2 linked regions of the Homo sapiens genome follow. The protein of the gene in region 1 purifies or fractionates together with the protein of each later gene. This does not show direct contact. Each region holds a gene or a part of one and is shown in the gene's direction. Other genes may lie near its edges.

Evidence for each region.
Region 2: the proteins of ZNF121 (region 1) and EPB41L4B purify together in Homo sapiens (affinity purification with mass spectrometry; one large-scale study listed by BioGRID and IntAct). This does not show direct contact.

Annotation. Positions count from the first base shown.
Region 1 is NC_000019.10:9,570,934-9,574,749, reverse strand, and holds part of ZNF121 (zinc finger protein 121), read left to right. Parts: intron 1-3,816. UniProt on the Homo sapiens protein: May be involved in transcriptional regulation.
Region 2 is NC_000009.12:109,311,027-109,314,842, reverse strand, and holds part of EPB41L4B (band 4.1-like protein 4B), read left to right. Parts: intron 1-3,816. UniProt on the Homo sapiens protein: Up-regulates the activity of the Rho guanine nucleotide exchange factor ARHGEF18. Involved in the regulation of the circumferential actomyosin belt in epithelial cells.

The DNA of each region.
Region 1 (3,816 bases):
GGTCATAGCCTGTTCCTATTCCTTATTTGAAGATGTTTTTGCCTTTCTCAGCATTCCACAAGTTACTTCCTCCTTCCTTTCTTCTCCTCTGCCTTTACGCCTTTTAAAAAGTTCTAAGCCAATCAAAACAAGTACAAAATGTGAGGTTCCATTCCAGCCAGTGGAAACTGGACACAGCAGTAGGGTGGATGCGTCAGGTTATAAATGAACCTGTCTCCTTTGTTCGGTGTACTCTCATGGCAAATCTGCTGGGGAGTGTACCCTTTCTGCAGAAAGTGTAAAAATGGCCTTGCTAGGGCCGGGCGCGGTGGCTTGTGCCTGTAATCCTAGCACTTTGGGAGGCCAAGGCGGGCAGATCACGGGATCAGGAGATTGAGACCATCCTGACTAACACGATGAAAACCTGTCTCTACTAAAAAAACAAAAAATACAAAAAATGAGCCGGGCATGTTGGAATGTGCCTGTAATCCCAGGTACTAGGGAGGCTGAGGCAGGAGAATCGCTTGAACCTGGGAGGCGGAGGTTGCAGTGAGCCGAGATCGCGCCATTGCACTGCAGCCTGGGCGACAGAATGAGACTCTGTCTCAAAAAAATGTATAAATAAATTAAAATGGCCTTGCTAAAGAAATAAAATTTATGTTCAAGTGCTATTTCTTTACGGCACCGGGAAACAAGCATTTCAAACATGGTGAAGCCCCGTCTCTACAAAAAAAAAAAAAAAAGAAAGAAAGAAAAATTAGCCAGGCATTGTGGTGCACATTTGTAGTAACAGTTACTTGGGAGGCTGATGTGAGAGTATGGCTTGATCCTGGGAGATAAAGGCTGCATTGAGCCATGATTGTGCCACGGTACTCCAGCCTGGGCAACGGAGTGAGACCGTCTCACAAAAAAAGAAAGAAAATGTCATCCTACTCCCTTCTGGCCTGTGTGTGGTTTCCCTTGAGAAATCCTGTTGCCAGACCAGCTGGAGTCCTTCATGTTATTTGCTTCTTTTCTCTTAATGCTTTTAAGGTCCTGTCTTTGTCCTTGACCTTTGAGAGTCTGAAGATTGTATGCTTTGTAGTAGTCTCATTTGGATTGAATCTGTTTGGTGTCATCTTACCTTCCTGTACCTGGATATTTATATTTTTCTCAATTTTTGGAATCTTGTTATTTCCTTAATAAAGCTTTCAAAGCTTACCCCTTGCACTTGCTGCATTCCCTCTTGAACACCAGTGATTCCTAGGTTTGGTCTTTCAAGGTAATTTTCTGCATCTTGCCGACAATCTTAGTTCCTTTTCATTCTTCTCTTCTGGCTATATTTTCAAATAGCTTTTCTTCAAGCTCAGTGAATCTTTCCTCTGATCCATCTTGCTGTTGAGAGCCTCTACCGTGAACTTTTGAGTTGAGTATTTCTCAGTTGTAAGATTTCTCTTTTTTGTTGTTGTTAATATATTCTAAAGTTTTTTCTGATACATTTCTGAGTTGCTCTTCTGTGTTATTTTGGAGATCACTGAATTTCCTTAAAACTGTTATTTTGAATTCTTAGGGAGCTCACATATTGTCATTTCATTAGGTTCAGTCACTGATACTATTTTCGTCCATTTTAGGAGGTCGTGGTTCCCCATTTGCTGTTGTTTCTTGTGGATGTACATCTGTGTCTGTGCATTGAAGGATTAGTTATTTATTACAGTCTTTGTCTGGCTTGTGGTTTTTATTGGGTATGTTTTCTTTTTATCTTTTTTGTTGTTGTTTTGAGACAAGGTCTCTCTCTGTCACCCAGGTTGCAGTGCCGTGGTGTGACCATGGCTTACTGCAGCCTCTACCTCCCAGGCTGAAGCAATCCTCCCACCTCAGCCTCCTGAGTAGGTGAGGTGCACGCCACCACACCTGGCTACTTTTTGTACTTTTTAGTAGAGATGGGTTTTCATCTTGTTGCTGGTCTTGAACTCGAGCTTAAGCGATCTGCCTGTCTCAGCCTCCGAAAGTGATTTTCTTTCTTTAAAATTTCCCTAGGTCACTGCCTCGTTTTCAGCACTAGATGGAATCTTAAACCCACGTTTGCCTTTGCTATAGCAAACTATCAAGAATACTGCCCATTCAGAATGAGGGAGTCCTAAAGGGCATATTCCAGCACTGTGGGAAGGCTGGCTGTGTGTTCATGCCCAGGTGACCTGTGTAGCGTACCCCTACAGTATGGTGCTCCTGAACAGCCACTCTGACTTGGCTTCTCCTTTGGCCAAGTTATAAAACAGAGTTTCCAGGGCTGGGATGGTAGTCCTGCCTCCCATCTTTGTCCCTGGATGTCCTCAGGGATGTTTCTCCCTTCAGGCATTTGTAATGCTTCCTGTGGGTTGAGACAGGGAGGGACTGATCTTTTACCAGGGAACCCAGGATGATGGAGAAGGTGGTTGTCCACATTGATCTCAGTTTTTTCCAGTGTAGAAACTGTGAATTGGTAGAAATTTTCCACATTCTTGGAAACTTGATTCTCTTAACGTCTCCCTTGGAGTTTTTTCACTTCTTTGTAGCCCCAGAAACTGCCTAATTTTTATATTTTAGATCAGGGATATTGCTGGTGATAATTTTCACAATATGCATTTGGTTGTAGTTTTCTGTCAGGGGATTGAAACCAGCTTGCTTCTGTACTACCATTTTGGAACCGTAAATGCTGCATGCTTCTAATAAAGTTGTCTAAGGTATTTTCAGGCAGGGCACAATGATTCATGCCCGTAATCCTAACACTGGGAGGCTGACGTGGGAGGATTGCTTGAGACCAGGTGTTTGAGACTAGCCTGGGCAACGTAGTGAAACCTCATGTCTATAGTAAAAAGAAAAAGAAAAACAATTAGCCAGGCATGGTAGTATGTGCCTATAGTCCCACATACTCGGGAGGCTGAGGCAGGAGGATTGCTTGAGCCCGGGAGTTTGAAGTTTGAAGTTGTAGTGAGCTATGATCATGCCACTCTAATCCAGCCTGGGTGACAGAGTAAGACCCTGTCTCTAATTTTTAAAAATGTGTTTTCTACTTCCTATTCATTGGATATGATCAGTATAATGGTGTCAACATAGTGTACTAGTGTGGTGTTTCATGGAATGTCATTTTCTCTGGGGATTAAGTTACGACAGAGACCTCGAGAACTGACACATTCTAGGGGCAATGTTATGAAGATACATTGTTGGTCCTGCCAGGTGAAAGGTAACCAAGTCTTGTTTTTTTCAAATTGGTATGGAGAAAAGACATTAGCTATGTCAATGCCTGCATACCAAGTGACAGAAATTATGTTGATTTATCTAGTAAAGGCATTACATTTTGAAAAATGGCGGTAATTGGAGTGATCACCTAAGTTCATGATTTATGAATGATTTCAGTGTGGTAATTGAGTGACAGGTTATGATTCTCCACTGGGATAAATCCAGTTTTTGGCTACTATAGTTTAGACTTTTTACATAGATGGAGCAGTATTCAAGTACAGAGATTGGTACACTATGGCCCATGGGCCATATCTGTCTCTCCATGTGTTTTTTGTATATAAAGTTTAATCAGAACACAACCGTGTTCATTTGTTTACATTTTCTATGGTATTTTCCATGCTACAACAGCAGAGTTGAGTAGCTGCAACAGAGACCATGTGGCCCATAATGCCTAACATATATTTTGTGGCTCTTTAGAGTAGGCTTTGTTAACTGCTTATCTATTTCATTTCTAGGGACAGCACGATCAGTTAGCCACCACCACAGATCTCTGTAGGTCAGGGCATTCTGATTACTGGTACATTTCCACTGTCCTTGATAGTTGATTTTCTCACCTTGTGTTTGGTGATTAAATACTACCTT
Region 2 (3,816 bases), on another chromosome or scaffold:
CACACTGGCTTATCCCAGGGCTCTGGGTGGCTTGCTTTTTTTGCCCCTGTAGGGTAGGTATTGGCTAAAGGTGGCCTTCCACTACTTGCCCCACCCACATCCCCTCTCAGACCTGGAATGAGGCCTTGGATATCTAGTGGGTCATGAGTTTGTGTTATTTTTGGATATGCCTTCTTTGTTTTAAAAGAAAGGCTGAGGTGGGGGGGGGTGAGAGAGGGGTAATGAACACCCTTCCCAAAGGGGGTGTCGTGATACAAGCAAGAGCACTAACTCCCCTTCTATACTTGCTGGATTTGTCAGTGTTAATAAGGGGCGGGGGTTGGCCTGCAGGGGGAAGGGGCCGCAGCCTAGCCTCTCCAGTGCCGGTAACATGACCCTACACTGGTACAGGGCTCTGAACAAATATTAACTTGCTAAGCACTTTCACGTGCATAATCTCATTGAATTCTGTTCCTAGTACCCTGCAGTGGATGAAGGCACAGGTCTGTTTCGTTTTGAAATAGCAGAAGGTCGATGGGGGTGGGGCCTTCCCTTAAATTCTTGCGTGGGGACTTAGAAAAAAATCCAGCCTGGCAACCACAGAAATCCTCCGCCTACCATTTGTCCTCAAAACACGTGTTCCATCCTTGCCCACTGCTTGACTTCCTTTGGCCGGCTGGGAGTGGGCTCCTCCCCGGGCCTCTCTCTGCCCTGCCTGGAGCCTTCTCCTCCAGTGGGAACTGCACTCCAGTTTCCACCTGTAGCCCGTGGCTGCTGCCTGAGGGCAGGGTCAGCTGCTGATTCATCTGGGTGTGTTTTCCAGGTTCGTGTGTGTGCTCTCCTTTCATTTCTCGTTTACAATGCATTCATCGAAGACCCATTTGAAAATACACAAAGGTTGGAACAACATCTACAGTTTCATTAAACACTGTTAAAATAGGGGTGCGCATTCATCTGTGCTTTATTTCATATTCAGATATAAACATGTTTTTAAAATGATGAACTTAAGTGGGTTGATGGAAGTCTCTGTCTACTCCCACCTCAGCACAGTTGAATAAGGATGGTCGACTTGGAGCTTGTATCTCTTTAGGGTGAGGCCCTCGGCTCTCCTCTCTACATTTCCTGGGACTCTTAGCTGGGGTGGGGAGCCCCCAGTGCTTGTTAGCCATCTGCGCTGTGTGCTGCCTGCTGCCCCTCCCTTGGTAGGAAGCAAGCTGCCTGGCACTCTGACCCTCCTCACCACAATTACTTTCTCTTGCTGGCAGGTTAAAGGTCTTGTTGATGTGACCTCAGAGTCCCCTTGCATCTGAAAGCAGCTGCTATGGGGCAGTCTCGACTCTCGCCAGCCCAGGATGCCTGTGACTCTGCTACCAGCCAGAGCTGACCTGGCAGAGTGGGGCTGGAGCCGGGCAGCATCCTGGTGTGCCCCCCCACCACCCTAATCCCTCTAATCTCACTCCTTCTGCAGCCTCTGTGGCCTCTCTCTAGAGCTAGATTAATTTTACTAGTCCCACCTGATTTTAATTTCTGGTTTATTTTAAATTGTTTTCCAAAATGTTTTTGTTTGCTCACAATATGTTTTCTTCAGTCAGCAAAGGCTTACTGAGCCCTTACACTACATTAAGCATGGGGGAGGGGTATCGGAGAGAGAAGAGTGTTTCTTAAGCTCCCAGTCTTGAGGGGCAGACAGAGTAAACAGATACCCATAAACCAACATGGGGTGGTGCCGGGGGTGAGCAACTGAAGTGTGGGCTGGAGTTGGAGAAGGTTTTTTTTTCTTTTTTTGGTAACATTGGGGTCTCACTATATTGCCCAGGCTGGCCTGGAACTTCTGCCCTCAGGAGATCCTCCCACTGCGGCCTCCCAAAGCTCTGGGATTACACGTGTGAGCCACCACACCCGGGCAGCTGGAGAAGGTTTGGTCCCCAGAGTGACAATGGAATTGCCCCAAAGGATGTGTAGGAGTTCAGCTGTGTCTGGGTGGAGGGAACAGCAGGTGGAAACGCGTGGAAGATGGGGGTCAGAAAAGCCCCATCCCTGGGCTCCGGGTTCCTTGGGGTAGGGGATTCAGATGAGTTCTGGCTGTATGCCTGGATCTTAAAGGAGTGAGTGAGTGAGTTGCCTTTGAAATGAAGATGATGTCGGGACCCCATCTAGGTGATTATCTTGTTGAATCCTCACAAAAACTGTGTTGATGGTTACTGTTGTTATTCCTGATTTGTAGAGGAAAGAATCAGGGTTTAGCAGACAGGTTAAGAAACTTGTCCAAGGTCACATAGCTAGTAAAGGCAGACTCTAGCTTGATTTGTGGTCTGGGAAGGTCTCTGACAGCACAGCTGGGCGAGGGGGGTGGGAGGGCTCTGAGCTTGCCCCAGAGGTTCCGAGCTGGATGGCGACCCCTGAGCCCCCAAAGGGCTTCCACCTTTGTAGGCCACTTGGGATCAGATTTACTTCTTTAGTTAGACTCATTGAATGTCATTTCACTCGAGTGCATAATGGTTTGATGGCCATAATTCAACACTCAGATCAGAAGTAGGTGATGTTTTTAAAAAGTGCTTAGTAGAACAACATTAAAATTATCTCAAAGAAAAACATTTTCATATTCCTATCCTGCTGCATAGCAACTGGTTGGTTTCACTTTGTTCCTTTCCATCTTTGTGCTTTTGTATACATGTTTATAAGCGTGGTGTATATCCTTTAAAACATTTTTTTCTTTTCTCCTCCCCATCCACATTTCTTGACAGGCTTCTCACCAGTTTGGTGCCCTCTTTTGTGTGTATTCTAGAATACTTAAATTCAACTCTTATTCTCTGCTGTGTGTGATGTGGTTTGAGTGAGTAATACCTGTCTCTGGGGGCTTGGAGGTTGATATGCAAAGCACCTGATCACTTACGCGTCAGGCAGCCCCATCTCCAAGGCATGCAGAATCTGTGTTGCTTCCCTTAATCACTGCCGCCTGGGAAGGTGCACGTTATCATCCCCTTTGCAGATGGTCTCGGAGAGCAGATGGCCTCGGGCCACTCTGCTGGTAAGTATGGGAGAGCCAGATTGAATTTAGGTTTCCGGACTCATTTTCCAGTGCTCTTCCCCTCAGCCCATGCTGTGCACACCCAGCCTTCCTGTGTTAAATGTGTGTTCTCTTAGAACTCCCTGGGAAGGTCAGAATTTCATGCAGTAAAATCCCCTGTCTTTTCTGAACCACTTTGCCTTTCAGCATCTCTGGCATTTGGATTCTGTCTACCATTTCTCAGCATTTTTTGCAGGTTCTTTTCCCCAAAGTCATAGCTGGCTGAGTGCCCAGCATTTTCTTCATGAAGCCAAGAACTGGAAGATGATATCCCAAGGGTCCTGTCCCACCTGTGGGATCATCCGGTGCTTCTTTGTTACCCAGCTCAGTCCCCCCGGGTGGAATGGTCTACCCTGCAGCTGTGAGGATGCCAACTGCCTGGTTCAGCGGGTGCCTGCAGAGCTGGCATCCCTCAGCTCTGTGGTTTCTTTTCCATGCCTGTCTCATGAGCTGAGTGTTGTCTGCAGCATAGCATTCGCTCAGGTGCGTTGAAGTCAGCCTGATAATGCATCTCCTTTGCTCTACCTGTTCACTTGCTGAGCTGCACCTACCCTGAATTATGAATTTTTTTGAAAATCATGGTATTAATATAAATAACATAAAATTTACTATTTTAACCGTGTTTAAGTGTATGCAGTTAAGTGGCATGATGTACATTCACACTGTTTTGCAACCTTCACCACCATTGGTCTCCAGACGTTTTTCATCTTCCCAAACTGAAACTCAGTCCCCATTAAACATTAACTCCCTATTTTCACTCCCCCCAAACC